3 linked regions of the Homo sapiens genome follow. The protein of the gene in region 3 interacts with the protein of the main gene of each other region in a biochemical or structural test. Each region holds a gene or a part of one and is shown on either strand. Other genes may lie near its edges.

Region 1 (4,543 bases), about 140 Mb from region 3:
CAGACCAACCACCCCAAAACTTTTGACCTGAGGAATAAATTAGTTTTGAATTAAGTTCTTCTGGTGAGAACTGCCTTGCTTAAAGAATTAAAAACCCTTGACTTTCCTCAAAGACCATGTTGACAGAGACTGCTAACATGAAGCTTAAGTTTTCTGAATTATGTTCAAATCTTTAGAGGAATGAGGATTCATCTTCCACTCTTACGTGTCAGGGGTTGGACCTGCGGAGTCTGCTTTTTCTAAAAATTGACTGCAACCACTTTGAAATCAGTTCTTTCCCTCAAGAAGGTTCCCCAGGTTGAAGGTAGGCCCTGATGATCTGCACGTGGTATGTAGGACGCTGATGGGGTTTAAGTTCAGGGAAACTGCTATGTGACTTCTCACAAACATCCCACCTGATGCTACCCCAATCCTGAGAACTTAGACGGACAGCTCCCCTTCAAAGCCTTGTTTACTTAGTCCATACCTTGCATCCAGTTCGCTAGTGCAAACTTAATGTGTAAGCAATGTAGATAGAATGGAGCTTTTTTGCATATAAGAAAAAAAAACCTAAAAGTCAGAAAAGCCAGTTTTTTTTTTATTTGTAAAGCTCTGCCATAAACTTCTAGCGTGTGCCAATGGTCACCTGCCACACTCGCACCAGGTTGTCCGTGTAGCCAGCAAACAGAGTCTGCAGGGAAGAAATGACAGTGACAGGTCAGGCTGGCATAAATTCTGCAGTCTCACTAGATTCAGCCCAAGTGGCTTTTTTTGAGATCCGTCCACCTTGCTCCATTGTCTAGGCTGGAGTGCAGGGGTGCGATCCTGGCTCACTACAGCCTTAAGCCCCTGCAGTTCAAGAGATCCTCCCACCTCAGCCTCCAGTAGGCATGTGCCACAACGCCGGGTAGACTGTAAGAAACCGCTCTCATTTCAACAGCCAGCTTGTAAGTGGTGGTTATGTATTCCTTGAGGAAGAAACAGCTGGTGATAAGGCTCCAGACATTTGAAAACTGGTCAGATTAATTAAGGTATTAATTGAAGGCTGACAGCCACTGCGTTCCACATCAGTCTTCCCTCTGATGCAGAAACACATTCACTGGCATGGCAAACGAGGGCATCCTCATCAACCTGGCTTGTCATTTCACTTTATGCCAAGGACACTGCTCTTGTGTCTGACAGACTAGATATACTAACAGAATGAGAGGGAGAAAATTAACTGGAAGCAGAATCACCTGAGAGGACAGACCCACTTACCTGGCCATCAGCAGACCAGGCCAGGGAGGTGCACTGGGGTGGTTCTGCCTTGCTGCTGGTACTGATAACTTCTTGCTTCAGTTCATCTACAATGATCTTTCCCTCTAAATCCTGGGGAACAGGGCAAAAGCAACCTTAAGACTTACCAATCAAGAGAGTCTCCTCTTAAAAGCCCCTCAAGATTCTCAAGTTAAAAAGGGATGATTTTGCTCCCTGGGGTCCATGTATCAATGCCTACATGCATTTTCAGTTGCCACTAGTGGAAGGATGGTTTGCTACTGACATCTAGTAGAAGCTGGAAATGCTGCTAAACATCCTGGAATGTACAGGACTGCACACCACAACAGAGTTACTCAGACCAAAATGTCATTACGTGGAGGCTGAGAAAGCTTAGCTCCCAGGTGGGAGTCAGATGGCATATATAATAACCAAAACATTGCCAGGGCTCAGAGTGCAGCCAGGTACCCAGTCAATTGTAACCCACACTCACCCAGATCTTGATGCTGGGGCCTGTGGCAGCACACAGCCAGTAGCGGTTAGGGCTGAAGCACAGGGCGTTGATGATGTCCCCACCATCTAGCGTGTAAAGGTGTTTGCCTTCGTTGAGATCCCATAACATGGCCTGGCCATCCTGGACACAGGTAAGGTAAATCAGGACACTGTGACCTCTTCCAGATGTTAATTCTGCCCATCTCAAGATTCTGTCAGAATCAATTCTTACCTTTCCTCCATTACCCCAGGCTTCTTTGAAAGCTAATGACTCAAGTACCAATATTTATCTCTGTATACCTTTCCTTTAACGTAAGACCTTACCAACCCCATCAAAAAACCCCTCCCAACTTACATAAATCACTCCAATCATTTCTGAAAACCAGGATCCCAATCTCATCAACTGCTTCAAGAAACCAACTTTAGGCTGGGTGCGGTGGCTCATGCCTGTAATCCCAGCACTTTGGGAAGCCGAGGTGGGCGGATCACCTGAGGTCAGGAGTTCAAGACCAGCCTGGCCAACATGGTAAAATCCTCTCTACTAACATACAAAAATTACCCAGGAGTGATGGCGGGTGCCTGTAATCCTAGCTACTCGGGAGGCTGAGATGGGAGAATTGCTTGAACCCGGGAGATGGTTGCAGTGAGCCGAGATCGCGCCACTGCACTCCAGCCTTGGCAGCCGAGTGAGACTCCGTCTCAAAAAAAAAACAAAAAACAAACAAACAAAAAAACAACAAAAAAAACCCACAGGCTTATAGAAAATCATCTTTTTCTTCCAGATAGTATGCCTTAACTGTCATTTGCTGAAAGTAATCTTTGGAAACATATTCTCAGATTGCCATTATCTCATTATCCTCCTAAAACCATCTTGGCTAATGTTTGCCATTTTACGTTAGAGACGCTGGCTAAGTGCTCCTTCCATGACGCTGTCTTCCACTGAGTAGGAGACGCCTTGTCCCCAAATACCTTGCCTCCAGAAGCACAGAGGGATCCATCTGGAGAGACAGTCACCGTGTTCAGATAGCCTGTGTGGCCAATGTGGTTGGTCTTCAGCTTGCAGTTAGCCAGGTTCCATACCTGCATAGACGTGCGGTTGACAGGTGAACATCCTAGCTCTTGATGAGCTAGGGTCAGGCCCAACAAAAAAGGGCTTGGCACTTCTGGATACGGTAGCCATTTCTCATTCAGTAACATGTCCTGGCCACTTCACGTTAGATTATAACACATATCCAATGCAGTGTGCTGACTTACAAGGGACATCAGACCATGTGACAAGAGAAAGAGTCAACTGAGGGCATCTGCAAAGCTTTCCACAGGACTTGGAGTGTATGACCACCTGGGAGCACACCCTGACTGGTAAAGCCCCTGCCTTGGCTTGACGCTCACCTTGACCAGCTTGTCCCAGCCACAGGAGACGATGATAGGGTTGCTGCTGTTGGGCGAGAAGCGGACACAAGACACCCACTCTGAGTGGCTCTCATCCTACAGAAGATGGAAAGGAAATTAGGGCAAACAGTCCTATCCCATGAAATGCTAGACCTCCCAGCCCTACCCCTCAGTAGGATGATGGCTGGCAGCACCTTTCAAAAACCAAGAACCCAAACCTTTAAGCTCAATAGAATCCCTTTAGATTCCAGACAAGAAAATTTTTTAAAAATTTAGAGATGGTGGCTGGACGCAGAAGCTCACGCCTCTAATCCCAGGGAGGGCGAGGTAAGTGGATCACCTGAGGTCAGGAGTTTGAGACCAGCCTGGCCAAAATGGTGAAACCCTGTCTCTACCAAAAATACAAAAATTAACCAGGTGTGGCGGCGGGTGCCTGTAATCCCAGCTACTGGGGAGGCTCAGGCAGGAACACTGCTTAAACCCAGGAAGCGAAGGGTGCAATGAGCCAAGATTGTGCCATTGCACTCCAGCCTGGGCAACGAACAAGTGAAACTTCATCTCCAAAAAAAATATAATAATAATAATAGGGCCTGGTGTGGTGGCTCACGCCTGTAATCCCAGCACTTTAGGAAGCCAAGGTGGATGGATCATGAGGTCAGGAGATCAAGACCATCTTGGCTAACATGGTGAAACCCTGTCTCTACTAAAAATACAAAAAATTAGCCAGACCTGATGGCAGGCGCCTGTAGTCCCAGCGACTCGGGAGGCTGAGGCAGGAGAATGGCGTGAACCCGGGAAGCAGAGCTTGCAGTGAGCCGAGATCGCACTACTGCACTCCAGCCTGGGCGACAGAATGAGACTGTCTCAAAACAAAACAAAATAGTAGTGATAAGGCCGGGCACGGTGACTCACGCCTGTTATCACAGCAGTTTGGGAGGCTGAGGCGGGCGGATCACCTGAGGTCAGGAGTTTGAGACCAGCCTGGCCAACATGGTGAAACCCCATCTCTACTAAAAATACAAAAATTAGCTGGGCATGATGGCACACGCCTGTAATCTTCTCAGACACCCAACCATCGGCTTCTGAGCTGCGGCAACTCCCTTTCACCTTTTCACCGCCCCCCACCCATCCCCAAATCCCCGATCCAGCCCCCAATCTGCGATCCCAAATCTGCGATCTAGCCCAGAATCCATCTCAAAAAAGAAAAAAAATAAATAAAATTTTGTTTAAATAGATGGGGTCTCACTATGTTGGCCAGGCTGCTCTCCTGTCCTCAAGCAGTCCTCCCACCTTGGCCTACCAGAGAGCTAGGATTACAGGCGTGAGCCCAGCCCAGACAAGACTTTAAAAAGGCAAAGAAAGCGGGGGACGGTGGCTCACGCTTATAATCCCAGCACTTTGGGAGGCTGAGGCGGGCAGATCACCTGAG
Region 2 (7,043 bases), on a different chromosome or scaffold from region 3:
TAAGCATAAAAAAGTACTGAGAATCCGTTCTCATTAGATAACTGTGTACTAAAATGAGATACCACTACACACCTATTAGAATGTCCAAAATCCATAAAAAAGCAAAAAAAAAAAAAAAAAGAAAAGAAAACCAAGATCAATTGCCAGGGAAGATGTGGAGCAACAGAAACTCTCATTCATTGCTGGTGGAAATGCAACATGGTACAGCCACTTTGGAAGACAATTTGGCGTTTTCTTAAAAAACTGAACACAGCATAAGATTCAGCAGTCATAATCAATTTACCCAATTGACGTGAAAACTTACGTCTACATAAAAATTTGTATACGATTGTATACAAAAGATTATTTCATAATCACCAAAAATAGAAGCATCCAAAATGTATTTCATTTGGTGGATGGATATATATATACACACGCACTATGGTACAACCAGACAATGATACTACTACTCCTCAATGAAAAGGAATAAGTTCTGAGCCACACAAAGTTATACATGACTCTTCAGTTCATTATGCTAGGTGAAAGAAACCAGTCTAAAAAGGCTACATAGTATGCGAGTCTATTTATATGACATTCAGGAAAAGGCAAAATTATAAAGATGAAACACCTATCAGTGGCAGCCAAGGGGGTTATCTGACAAGCACAGGGGATTTATCAGGGCAGTGAAACTAGTATGGTAATACTGTAATGGTGGATGCATGCTTGCTTTCATCTGAATATTTGTGTTCCCACAAACTTCATCTGCTGAAATACCAAGGTGATGGTATTAGGTAGAAGGTGGGGTATTTGGAGAATGACTAGTTCATGAGAGCAGAGTCCTCATGAATGGGATCAGTGTTTTTATAAAATAGACTCCACAGAGATCCCTTGCCCCTTCTTCCATGTGAGGACATAGGGGAAAGGCAACTGTCTATGAACTAGGGAGCAGGTCTCCATCAGACATGAAATCTGCCAGCACCTTGATCTTGGACTTCCCAACCTCTAGAATGTGAGAAATAAAGTTGTGTTGTTTATAAGCCACCCAGTCTACACTATTTTTGTTATGGAAGCCCAAAGGGACTAAGACAACGGCACGAGGCATTTGTCAAAACCCATAGATCTTTACAGCACAAAGAGTGAAGCTTAATGTATGTAAAGTCTAAAAGTAACTTAAGAAGTTGGAGAATCATGGGACAGAATGTAGAATGTTACACACACACACAAACCTAGCTGTATTATACATGTATGAAACCACTACAGTGAAGCAAGTGGCGGGAAAGTTACCATATTTGGGTACTCCATCAAAGAAATATGTTTTTTATAAAGTATAAGTCGGCCAGATAAGCATGTAAAATAGTTGAATATTTGATAATCATTTATATAATTTTTCAGATATGAAAACTATTGGGATTCTGTTTAATAAAACGTCCTTATCTTTTAAAAATGCATATTGAGTTATTTCGAGATGAAATGGTCTAATGCCTTAGATTCGCTCCACGTTATTCCAGAAGCTGATGTGCAGGTAGGCAAGTGTCTAACTGGAACCAGATTTGCTGTGTATTTAAAGTTGTTCATGCTGGGTATCTAGTATCCTGGGTTCATTACATTAGTTCCTATTATTCTGTATGTGTGAAGGCTTTCCCTAGTAAAACTTTTTTTATAATAAATATGCCATTAAAAGTGAAATCCTAAATGAAACTGACCACTTTGTAGAAATAAAATAAACCAGTAACCAAACTGATCCAAAAAGAAAAAGAAAACTTTAATTAAACTATAAAAACTGAAACTGTACAATGTTCAAAGCTCAAGCCACCTTCAAACATTCCAGGTTAGGCAGTATTGGAGGCCAATTCTACCAAATGATCAGGGAAAACTAACCACCATCTTATCTCATCTCTTCTAGAACATACAAAATATTTACAATTGTTCAATTCATTCTTCCAGACTAGCCCTCCTGGATTCAAAAACCAGATGAGGACCACATCCCACCCTTGATGGGAAAAAAAGCACACATTAAGTAAGCTCCCTTACATAGCAGCAAATATCCTACGTAAATTACTAGCATATTAAATAAACAGGCTCTGCCCAAGGAAATAACATACGGTTTAACATTAGGGGAAAAAAAAAAAACGGTTTCATTGTAATTCCTTACATACAAAATGGAGGAGAAAAAAATTTGATTGTGTCAACGGGTACAGAAAAAGCTTTTTAAAGAAATTTAATATGAGTTCATGGTAAAAAAAAAAAAAGTATTTAACCTATATTCAAAGAGAAATTGCACTTCCTAAAATCAACAGCAAACATACTTAAATGCAAAACGTTCGAATAATTATCATTCACGTCAGGAACGAGAAGTAGATGTAGGCTATTATCTCTACGATTGAAATCAGGATTGAGACACAAAGAGCTATAAGTACCAAAATGAGTAAGTGGTATGAATACTGGAAGAATATGTAATGTTTAGTGATAATACCATTATCGATCTTGAAAATTCAAAGGAAAAGGTATGTGGAATATTCAAGTGCATCGGCCTTCAGAACGAGGAGTGCAACAGATTACTACAGCAAAATCAAAATCTTCACCTCACGAAAGCAATAACTAACTACAACAATTAATAGACAATATGCCATTTGCAATAGCAACAAAATTCATGAATTGCCTGAAAAGAAGTCTAATAAAAATGTATAAGGTCTTTATAGAGACAACTGTCGAAGTATACTGACATATTCAGGTAAAAAAAAGCTTGAAATACATAGAGGAGTATAACATATTCATTCATGGGGAGCACAACACTGTAAAAATGTAAACTCAGCTTAAATTATTTACAATTTAGTGCCTTACCTGTAGCCGCCGCCATTACAACAAATTTGGGCTGCTGTGCTCTGCTTCCCAAATCAAACCTGGAAAATTACAGAATGGAAACAGTAAATAAAAAACCAGTATCAGCAACAAAATCTACGCAACAAAACAGGGAAAGCCCAGGGTGAGACTCAAGGCTGTGTTGAGCTGGTACTTGTGTTTGACACTTGCAGTGTTGGTTGGAGGGGGTTAGCAGCAGGGATGTTGGGGAGGTTTGTAGCCGGCCTACACGGTAGATGACAGAATGGGTAGAATAAAAGTTTGAAATTTTCCACTTCACTTCTTTGCACAATCTGAGGCAGCCTCTGAAAACACGATGCCAAGAGCCCTAGGTAATAGCAGGACACCAGGAAAATTTGGTTGGTTAAGGCAGTATGACTCCAGAGTTCTGCTAATAACAACCTGAAACCACCATAGTGGCAGAGGAATTACATTTTTAAAAAAAAAAAATTCTTTCAACAGAACACAAAGACTGAAATAGGAGGTCACTACAACCGCGGGAGCTGCCGCCCCGCCCTGCAGGGAGCACCTGGCCTGGGACCCGCAGGCATTCTCTACAAGGGGTGCAGCTGTGCAAATGCTCACAGGTGACAGAAACAGAGCATCTCCTGCCCATCACTTCATCCAACAGCCAGAGGTGACGAAGACGACCCTCCTGAGTGAGGACTGAGGGTCCACACCGCCCCCCCACCCCACACACCATAGAGGGACCACAGAATCCAGCTCAGCCCCTCTTGTCAGCCCTGGTAAACGCAGGCAGTGATGTCACCCAGACCACACCCCTTCCCCCAATGCCACTTCAGGGGGACTCAGAGTCAGAGACTTGGTCTGAGGGGAGCAGAAGCAATCTGCAGAGGATGGCGGTCCAGGCTCAGCCAGGCATCAACTTCAGGACCCTGAGGGATGACCGAAGGCCCCGCCCACCCACCCCCAACTCCCCCGACCCCACCAGGATCTACAGCCTCAGGACCCCCGTCCCAATCCTTACCCCTTGCCCCATCACCATCTTCATGCTTACCTCCACCCCCATCCGATCCCCATCCAGGCAGAATCCAGTTCCACCCCTGCCCGGAACCCAGGGTAGTACCGTTGCCAGGATGTGACGCCACTGACTTGCGCATTGGAGGTCAGAAGACCGCGAGATTCTCGCCCTGAGCAACGAGCGACGGCCTGACGTCGGCGGAGGGAAGCCGGCCCAGGCTCGGTGAGGAGGCAAGGTAAGACGCTGAGGGAGGACTGAGGCGGGCCTCACCTCAGACAGAGGGCCTCAAATAATCCAGTGCTGCCTCTGCTGCCGGGCCTGGGCCACCCCGCAGGGGAAGACTTCCAGGCTGGGTCGCCACTACCTCACCCCGCCGACCCCCGCCGCTTTAGCCACGGGGAACTCTGGGGACAGAGCTTAATGTGGCCAGGGCAGGGCTGGTTAGAAGAGGTCAGGGCCCACGCTGTGGCAGGAATCAAGGTCAGGACCCCGAGAGGGAACTGAGGGCAGCCTAACCACCACCCTCACCACCATTCCCGTCCCCCAACACCAACCCCACCCCCATCCCCCATTCCCCATTCCCATCCCCACCCCCACCCCTATCCTGGCAGAATCCGGGCTTTGCCCCTGGTATCAAGTCACGGAAGCTCCGGGAATGGCGGCCAGGCACGTGAGTCCTGAGGTTCACATCTACGGCTAAGGGAGGGAAGGGGTTCGGTATCGCGAGTATGGCCGTTGGGAGGCAGCGAAAGGGCCCAGGCCCTCCTGGAAGACAGTGGAGTCCTGAGGGGACCCAGCATGCCAGGACAGGGGGCCCACTGTACCCCTGTCTCAAACCGAGGCACCTTTTCATTCGGCTACGGGAATCCTAGGGATGCAGACCCACTTCAGCAGGGGGTTGGGGCCCAGCCCTGCGAGGAGTCATGGGGAGGAAGAAGAGGGAGGACTGAGGGGACCTTGGAGTCCAGATCAGTGGCAACCTTGGGCTGGGGGATGCTGGGCACAGTGGCCAAATGTGCTCTGTGCTCATTGCGCCTTCAGGGTGACCAGAGAGTTGAGGGCTGTGGTCTGAAGAGTGGGACTTCAGGTCAGCAGAGGGAGGAATCCCAGGATCTGCAGGGCCCAAGGTGTACCCCCAAGGGGCCCCTATGTGGTGGACAGATGCAGTGGTCCTAGGATCTGCCAAGCATCCAGGTGAAGAGACTGAGGGAGGATTGAGGGTACCCCTGGGACAGAATGCGGACTGGGGGCCCCATAAAAATCTGCCCTGCTCCTGCTGTTACCTCAGAGAGCCTGGGCAGGGCTGTCAGCTGAGGTCCCTCCATTATCCTAGGATCACTGATGTCAGGGAAGGGGAAGCCTTGGTCTGAGGGGGCTGCACTCAGGGCAGTAGAGGGAGGCTCTCAGACCCTACTAGGAGTGGAGGTGAGGACCAAGCAGTCTCCTCACCCAGGGTACATGGACTTCAATAAATTTGGACATCTCTCGTTGTCCTTTCCGGGAGGACCTGGGAATGTATGGCCAGATGTGGGTCCCCTCATGTTTTTCTGTACCATATCAGGTATGTGAGTTCTTGACATGAGAGATTCTCAGGCCAGCAGAAGGGAGGGATTAGGCCCTATAAGGAGAAAGGTGAGGGCCCTGAGTGAGCACAGAGGGGATCCTCCACCCCAGTAGAGTGGGGACCTCACAGAGTCTGGCCAACCCTCCTGACAGTTCTGGGAATCCGTGGCTGCGTTTGCTGTCTGCACATTGGGGGCCCGTGGATTCCTCTCCCAGGAATCAGGAGCTCCAGGAACAAGGCAGTGAGGACTTGGTCTGAGGCAGTGTCCTCAGGTCACAGAGTAGAGGGGGCTCAGATAGTGCCAACGGTGAAGGTTTGCCTTGGATTCAAACCAAGGGCCCCACCTGCCCCAGAACACATGGACTCCAGAGCGCCTGGCCTCACCCTCAATACTTTCAGTCCTGCAGCCTCAGCATGCGCTGGCCGGATGTACCCTGAGGTGCCCTCTCACTTCCTCCTTCAGGTTCTGAGGGGACAGGCTGACCTGGAGGACCAGAGGCCCCCGGAGGAGCACTGAAGGAGAAGATCTGTAAGTAAGCCTTTGTTAGAGCCTCCAAGGTTCCATTCAGTACTCAGCTGAGGTCTCTCACATGCTCCCTCTCTCCCCAGGCCAGTGGGTCTCCATTGCCCAGCTCCTGCCCACACTCCCGCCTGTTGCCCTGACCAGAGTCATCATGCCTCTTGAGCAGAGGAGTCAGCACTGCAAGCCTGAAGAAGGCCTTGAGGCCCGAGGAGAGGCCCTGGGCCTGGTGGGTGCGCAGGCTCCTGCTACTGAGGAGCAGGAGGCTGCCTCCTCCTCTTCTACTCTAGTTGAAGTCACCCTGGGGGAGGTGCCTGCTGCCGAGTCACCAGATCCTCCCCAGAGTCCTCAGGGAGCCTCCAGCCTCCCCACTACCATGAACTACCCTCTCTGGAGCCAATCCTATGAGGACTCCAGCAACCAAGAAGAGGAGGGGCCAAGCACCTTCCCTGACCTGGAGTCCGAGTTCCAAGCAGCACTCAGTAGGAAGGTGGCCGAGTTGGTTCATTTTCTGCTCCTCAAGTATCGAGCCAGGGAGCCGGTCACAAAGGCAGAAATGCTGGGGAGTGTCGTCGGAAATTGGCAGTATTTCTTTCCTGTGATCTTCAGCAAAGCTTCCAGTTCCTTGCAGCTGGTCTTTGGCATCGAGCTGATGGAAGTGGACCCCATCGGCCACTTGTACATCTTTGCCACCTGCCTGGGCCTCTCCTACGATGGCCTGCTGGGTGACAATCAGATCATGCCCAAGGCAGGCCTCCTGATAATCGTCCTGGCCATAATCGCAAGAGAGGGCGACTGTGCCCCTGAGGAGAAAATCTGGGAGGAGCTGAGTGTGTTAGAGGTGTTTGAGGGGAGGGAAGACAGTATCTTGGGGGATCCCAAGAAGCTGCTCACCCAACATTTCGTGCAGGAAAACTACCTGGAGTACCGGCAGGTCCCCGGCAGTGATCCTGCATGTTATGAATTCCTGTGGGGTCCAAGGGCCCTCGTTGAAACCAGCTATGTGAAAGTCCTGCACCATATGGTAAAGATCAGTGGAGGACCTCACATTTCCTACCCACCCCTGCATGAGTGGGTTTTGAGAGAGGGGGAAGAGTGAGTCTGAGCACGAGTTGCAGCCAGGGCCAGTGGGAGGGGGT
Region 3 (7,033 bases):
CATTTTTTTAGTCTGCTGTTATTTGCCTCACAGATATAATAACCTAGTCTGAGGATGGCATTTTAAAAAAAGTCTTCCTCTGTTCCGTCTTGTTCTGTACCTTCTGTGCTCTCTGCATTCATTTTATTCATTTTTGTCTTTGATGCATGGCCCTTCTTCAGATATTTGGTGATTCTTGGCTGTCCACTAAATATTTAAGAATAGGGTATTAAATGCCAGGCTCATGTGGGTAGGACTTACTGATTGCTGGGTTTTCTCATAGCTTGAATAGGTAGGGACTTGTCTGTTTTATTACTGTATACCAAATGCTAATAATAACAAATATGTTTTCTTGGATCAGATATTTGCTCCAGAAGAAACCTTCCCATTTCCTTAAAGGCCTTAGCTTAGCTGCCAGTGCTCCAGGAGCTGAGTGGAGAAAAGAGATGCAAGTCTCACTAGTTAGTATGTTGACTTTGTCTTAGCCCCCATGTTTTCCTTAGGATGCCTTATCCCTGCCTTGGTGTCCTTGAGAGCAGAGCTGGTTCAGCCTTACTAGAGTAAATTATAGGTCTTATTCCCCAATATGGGTGAGTTTAAAAGCTTCTTACTTCAAGCACTTGTCCTGTTTTCAGCTCATCTCTCACTTCTACCTTGAGCAGTTCCCTGTGTTTCCAATTTCTAAGGCTTCCCAGGCTTTGTATGCAGATGTTTATTTTTTACTGGTTTCTACCCCTATAGGCTTAGGTTTTAGCTTTCTCTTGTAGGCTTAGTCTTTATTACTGTTTATCTATTGTCATCCTTGGTGACTCCTCTTGATTACTGCTGTCTCTTTTGTTCTTTTTGTCTTTATATGCCTGTTTTATTGCTGATGTCATTTTAGTGATGTTTCAAGAGTTGGAGACAAAAGATTTAATCTGTTACATTTAATTGGAAATGTATTTTGACTTTTCTAACCTTCCTTTATAGACATCCCTTTCTCCATCCTTTGTAATTGTACTTGTTACTAATACAGTATAATTTTCATTTTTGTAGCCTGTCTATTTTACTTTTTATATTTTGTTTAATCAAGTTTTCTCCTATTTTTTCATATTTGAACAGATACTCTTTTTTTTCCCCATGAACCTACAAATCTAGAAATAAAAGTATTAGAATGCTAAAGGATTAGTATTTTTCTAGAGGAATGGTATCTTATAATAGTTTCTTGTTTCAAAATAAATTACTGATTTGTATTTTCTCCCATATTATCCATGCCCTTTAAGGTGTAAGTCTGGTTTTAGAATGCTAATTTGTGACCTGTGTTAGAGAATTGCATATTGGAGTCCTTCGCCTAGAGGATTAATAGCTTATTTATTAAATATGACTTCTTGGGAGCAGGCATGTCCAAGTAATGGCTGTCACTTATGTTGAAAAAAGTGGTAATAATATATGGATACATAGAGAAGTTTAAAAAAAATACTTCAGGCTGCATGCAGTGGCACATGTCTGTAATCTCAGCACTTTGGGATGCTGAAGCGGTAGATTGCCTGAGCTCAGGAGTTCGAGACCAGCCTGGGCAACATGGCAAAGTCCTGTCTCTATCAGAAATACAAAAATTAGTGGGCGTGGTGGCATGTGCCTGTGGTCCCAACTACTTAGGAGGCTGGGGTGGGAGGATTGCGGGACCCCAGGGAAGCCGAGGCTGCAGTGAGCCGTGATGGCATCACTGCACTCCAGCCTGGATGACAGAACGAGACTGGATCTCAAAATATAGATAAATTTAAAACCCCGCCCCCCCAAAAAAACACAAAAAACAAAAATGAAAAGGTAGTTGCTATGTAAGATTTTTTTTTTAGCAAGCATATTAAAGATAAAATGCTATGATATTTTATTAAATGAATTAAGGTGTTTGTTGTTAAAATGTCTTCTATTTTAGGACATATAGCAACATAGTTGCTTGCTGGTTTATGAATAGTGCTTAAATATTACTTCCTCATGGTCTAAAATAGTGTCCCTCACCCCACTATCACTCACTGCACCTATATTTTGCTTTATTTTTCTTCAAAACAGTATCACTCCTTCTGACTATATTTATTAGTCTATTTTCATCAACTAGATTAGCCTTTGTTTTATTCATTGCTGTGTAATGAGTGTCTAAAGCAATGTGTAGCACGTTGAAGGTATTCAGTAATTTGTTAAAAGAATGAAAGAGTAAACATTTGCCGCTTATAAAAGGAAATATGCCAAATTTCAAGTAGATATTGAAATTATTTGAAATAACTCATGAGATATAGAGGAAGGCAAGCTGTTACAATGTAGTCATATGCAAATGATAATATTAGAAACTTGAGTTACTGATTTGGGTTCCAAGACCATCTTAGCATTTCTGTTTTGTGCTGCAGGTATCTCCTCCTCATGTCAAAAGTATCTCATAAGTGAAGTTCATTGGGAAGATTTTCATGTATTTTGACAATTTTATAGGTTGGAGAATTATAGATAGGACAATTTACTTTGAAAGACACACCTTTAAAAAGCCTCTCTAACTTTTCTTAGCTGGATGAAAAAGAAAGTCGGCGTCTGTTCCAACAGATCCTTTCTGGTGTGGATTATTGTCACAGGCATATGGTGGTCCATAGAGATTTGAAACCTGAAAATGTCCTGCTTGATGCACACATGAATGCAAAGATAGCTGATTTTGGTAAGGATAATTTTATAGTTTCTTAACGTTCATTTCTAATGTTCTTATAGTTTCAATGAACCTACCTAGAATTCTTCAGATAACTGTAAAAGATTACATAAAGTAATAGACTGAGTATATCAAAGTATTCTGTTTTGTCTATGAAGATACAAAAAGAAGAAAAGCTAAGAAATCATCTTTTCTTAGCTTTAAATGTCTTTATTACTATTATTTTATAGAGGCAGGGTTTCGCTTTGTCGCCCAGGCTGGAGGGCAGCGACGTGATCATAGCTCACTGCATCCCCAAACTACTGGGCCAGGTGACCCTCCTGCCTCAGCCTCCTGAGTAGCTGGGACTGCAGGCGTGCACTACCATGCCAGGCTGTTTTGTCTTTTTGTAGAGACAAGTTCTCACTATGTTGTCCAGGCTGCTCTTGAACTCCTGGCCTCAAGTGATCTTCCTACCACAGCTTCCCAAAGTATTGGGATTACAGGTGTGCACCACTGCACCTGGCTCTTTAAATATCTTTAAAATTAAATTTTAAACAACTTAAGTTGGTAGTATTAGAGAGACTATTTGAAAAGAGTATTATTTGTGAAAGAGAAGGTAGCAGCTTTATTTCCAGTATGTTCAAAAGAATCAAGTATGGAGAAGAAGGAAAGTGAGTGGGATGGAATTATTTAAAACCTTAAAAACCAGAAGTGAACTATGTGAATTTAATTATTTAAAATTATTTAAAACAATTTTTTAATTAAAAAAATTTATTTAAAAATTTAAAAATGTTTTAAATGATAGTAAATTATAATTTGTTTAAAGAACATTTTGATTGTTAAAAATGAATTTATTTTGGCTGGGCGTGGTGGCTTATACCTGTAATCCCAGCATTTTGGGAGGCCGAGGCGGGCGGATCACCTGAGGTCAGGAGTTCGAGCCCAGCCTGGCCAACATGGTGAAAACCCATCTCTACTAAAAATACAAAATTAGCTGGGCATGGTGGTGCGTGCCTATAGTCCCCACTACCCTGGAGGCTGAGGCAGGAGAATTGCTGGAACCCAGGAGGTGGAGGTTGTAGTGAGTTGAGATCGCCTGTCCGGCCTGGGCGACGGAGTGAGACACGGTCTCAAAAAAAAAAAAAAAAAAAAAGAATTTATTTTTTCTGTATTTCCTATATAAATTGCCATTGACCTTACTAAACCTAAGAGAAAAAGGAATCTCTTCTTTTCTTTAGGTTGGTTTTAGTTCAAATCAGATAACTTTTTTTTGTTTGTTTTTTGTTTTGAGACAGAGTTTCACTCTGTCACCCAGGCTGGAGTGGTACGATCTCGGCTCACTGCAACCTCTGCCTTCCAGGCTCAAGTAATTCTCCCACCTTGGCCTCCCAAGTAGCTGGGACCACAGATGTGGGCCACCACATGCAGCTATGTTTTTTTTAATTTTTGGTGGAGATGGGGAATCACTATGTTGGCCAGGCCGGACTCGAACTCCTGAGCTGAAGTGATCCGCCTGTCTTGGCCTCCCAAAGTGCTGGGATTACAGGCGTGAGCCACCATGTCTGGCCCAGAGAACATTCTTATAAAAATTTTCCTCAGTTTTGACTACATCTATGTATCTATATCTATAACTATATCTATTTAAATGTTCAGAGATTAACTGGAAAATGCCAACCAAACCTGAGCTGGTTGTTTTGGTGTTTTGTTTTTTTTTAAAATAGTAATTGGCTAAATTATTTGAATTTCTTATTCCTCAGTTGATTATTTTTATAGGGTGCATTTTTGAGGGAGCAACAGTTTCTTTTTGGAGTAAAACTGTGAGGGAACTTTGAAATTCAAAATTACTGTTTTTTTTTTTTTTTTTTTTTTTAAAGAATCAGAACAGGCTTAATAGGAACTTTGAATTTTAATCCTTCTATTCATCTGTTATAGATTATTTTCCCTAGTGATTTCTGTATTAATAAAACTTAAACATGGCAAGTTTTTTCTAATAAGCAAAATAACCAACAGCTTAATATATTTGTATTAAACTCTAACAGTGCACTAACTTTAAATGTTGAAATAGATTACACATTTTAGGGCATAATGGCAGAATATTTGGCTACAATAGACCATAGGATTTTGTTGAAGCAAATAACAAAATGATGATTTATCATTTTAATGCAAACTCAATTTTATTGTTTAATGGGATTTTAATTTTTGTCTTTGGGAAATCTTTTGAGTAGCTGATTTTGTGCACTTTCAGGTCTTTCAAACATGATGTCAGATGGTGAATTTTTAAGAACAAGTTGTGGCTCACCCAACTATGCTGCACCAGAAGTAATTTCAGGAAGGTAGTATTTGATACCCTGCCTCCCTCAATACATTTGAAATTGTCTTTTTCTCCTAGATTTTGTTAGTCTATAGTGTCATATTTAATTCTAATGAAAGGAAAGAAAGATAAGGCTTATTCTTAACCACATTTATATGTGAATGAGGGTTAAGGACTACAAGTCAACATTATATTAAAGTTGTTAGAAGAGAGTACATTAATTTTTTTCCCAGGTGGAAGAAATGGAAAGTTTAAAACTAGGGTGTTTAAAAAGTAGGTAAGACACTGGAAACTTGAATAATACAGAAATATCTAGTAGTTAGAAAAGGATTACTATTTACTTAGAGGAAAAATTAAACATGTAATGTGTAGCTTTAATTTTTTACATAGATGGCATTTTGTAGTACCTTTATGTTTCATGATAAAATGTCTTGGGGAACTGGGCTGAAGTAATCTTTAGACTTCATTTATGTTGAATCTTTGTTCTTTAAACCTTTTAGAGACTGCAATATTATAAGAATTTTAACCTCTCAATTTACTAACTACCAGCATTGAGAACATGAAGATATTTGTACAGTGTCGCTTTTTGAATAGTTTGGAAAACAGGAGAATTTAATATTTTTAAGAATAACTCTTTGTCCTTCACTATACTACTGAAATTGAAAACAGAAGCTGAAGTTTGCTAGATTTATAATGAACTTTTAATAACTTTTCACCCAAACCATGCTTATTTGTGTGAATGTTTTGCATCTTGATTAACTCAATGCAGAAATACTGTAGTATTTTCTATTTTTATAAGCTTGTTGGCCTAGACTGCTCAAAGAAATGAGATTTGTGTAAAAATATGGCTGTGAGTAAGGCAGGAGTACCTAATTTTAGATTTGTCAAGTTTCATCTTTTTTTTAAATATTAACTTAATGTCAAAAATTATTTAAAAAATTTTTAAAAAAATGGTGTTGTCTATCTTAATTCTTTTAGGAATAAAACAATTCAGGACATGGAGACTGTGGAAAGTTGTTATTTAAATAAATAAAAAGAAATGTTATAACTGTGCATATATGCAATGGGCTATTACTGAAATTTAATTTTTCTAGTTTGGATAAAGTCTTTCTTCAAGCTCTTGGTGTATGAGAACTTTTACTTTCAAAATAATATTTATCGATCAGTTCAGCAGTACATAAATTTAAAGAAATCCTTTTCCTGAATCCAGGCTTTGAATGGGTGATCTAACTAGTCTGCAGCTAGTTAAGGCACTTGACTACAATGCACTGCAAACGGGATTTAAAAACTCTGTGAACCAATTTGCCTGGCTTTCTTTCACAGCCTCAGGATCCTTTCACCTTGGTGTAAGGGGTCTTGTGTTATTGGGATTGTGGGCTCAGAGTCCATTACTAAAGAACATTCTCAGTTGATGAAATATCACTTAATCTCTCCTCTGTAACAAAAACCAATGGTTTTAAATTGAATAGTGATATGTTTGTTCAAGATTTGGCCCTATTGTCAGATCCCATCAGGGCCATAGTAAATAGTAGAACAGAATTTTAGCCATGGTGTGTAATTTACAAACTTCTTGACTTTTGTTTTCAAAGATAATACTGATGGAATTAACGTTGTAACATGTAGTAGTGGCTATAAAAACCATATTCTGCTTAAGAATTCTTTATGAAATATCCATATTTGAAGTTTTTGATGAACTGAATCTTAGGTTAAAATGATTCTTTAATCCAATTGTTATTTCCTGTTACAGATTGTATGCAGGCCCAGAGGTAGATATATGGAGCAGTGGGGTTATTCTCTATGCTTTATTATGTGGAACCCTTCCATTTGATGATGACCATGTGCCAACTCTTTTTAAGAAGATATGTGATGGGATCTTCTATACCCCTCAATATTTAAATCCTTCTGTGATTAGCCTTTTGAAACATATGCTGCAGGTGGATCCCATGAAGAGGGCCACAATCAAAGATATCAGGTAATAAAGCAGTTTGGAAGTTATCAGATCTGATAGTATCCATGATAAAAGTTATGTGAAAAAAAAAAAGTTGCAGAACAGAATATACAGTGTAATCCTGTTTTTATGTGAAAAAAATAGAGTG

Evidence for each region. Proteins that work in one complex are often made in the same cells at the same time.
Region 1: of the proteins of PRKAA1 (region 3) and RACK1, one has a biochemical effect on the other in vitro, tested with the Homo sapiens proteins (2 studies listed by BioGRID).
Region 2: the proteins of PRKAA1 (region 3) and MAGEA3 form a complex in vitro, tested with the Homo sapiens proteins (one study listed by BioGRID).

The regions. Positions count from the first base shown.
Region 1 is NC_000005.10:181,236,373-181,240,915, forward strand, and holds the end of RACK1 (small ribosomal subunit protein RACK1), read right to left. Parts: intron 3,211-4,543; coding exon 3,115-3,210; intron 2,806-3,114; coding exon 2,695-2,805; intron 1,868-2,694; coding exon 1,727-1,867; intron 1,348-1,726; coding exon 1,237-1,347; intron 671-1,236; coding exon 605-670; 3' UTR 525-604; downstream 1-524. UniProt on the Homo sapiens protein: Scaffolding protein involved in the recruitment, assembly and/or regulation of a variety of signaling molecules. Interacts with a wide variety of proteins and plays a role in many cellular processes.
Region 2 is NC_000023.11:152,694,775-152,701,817, forward strand, and holds the start of MAGEA3 (melanoma-associated antigen 3), read left to right. Parts: upstream 1-4,019; 5' UTR 4,020-4,055; exon of another isoform or gene 4,056-4,300; intron 4,301-4,431; exon of another isoform or gene 4,432-4,490; intron 4,491-4,531; exon of another isoform or gene 4,532-5,014; intron 5,015-5,783; exon of another isoform or gene 5,784-5,847; 5' UTR 5,848-5,913; intron 5,914-5,993; 5' UTR 5,994-6,058; coding exon 6,059-7,003; 3' UTR 7,004-7,043. UniProt on the Homo sapiens protein: Activator of ubiquitin ligase activity of RING-type zinc finger-containing E3 ubiquitin-protein ligases that acts as a repressor of autophagy. May enhance ubiquitin ligase activity of TRIM28 and stimulate p53/TP53 ubiquitination by TRIM28.
Region 3 is NC_000005.10:40,767,342-40,774,374, reverse strand, and holds part of PRKAA1 (5'-AMP-activated protein kinase catalytic subunit alpha-1), read left to right. Parts: intron 1-2,511; coding exon 2,512-2,656; intron 2,657-4,871; coding exon 4,872-4,959; intron 4,960-5,437; coding exon of another isoform or gene 5,438-5,492; exon of another isoform or gene 5,493-5,939; intron 5,940-6,684; coding exon 6,685-6,909; intron 6,910-7,033. UniProt on the Homo sapiens protein: Catalytic subunit of AMP-activated protein kinase (AMPK), an energy sensor protein kinase that plays a key role in regulating cellular energy metabolism.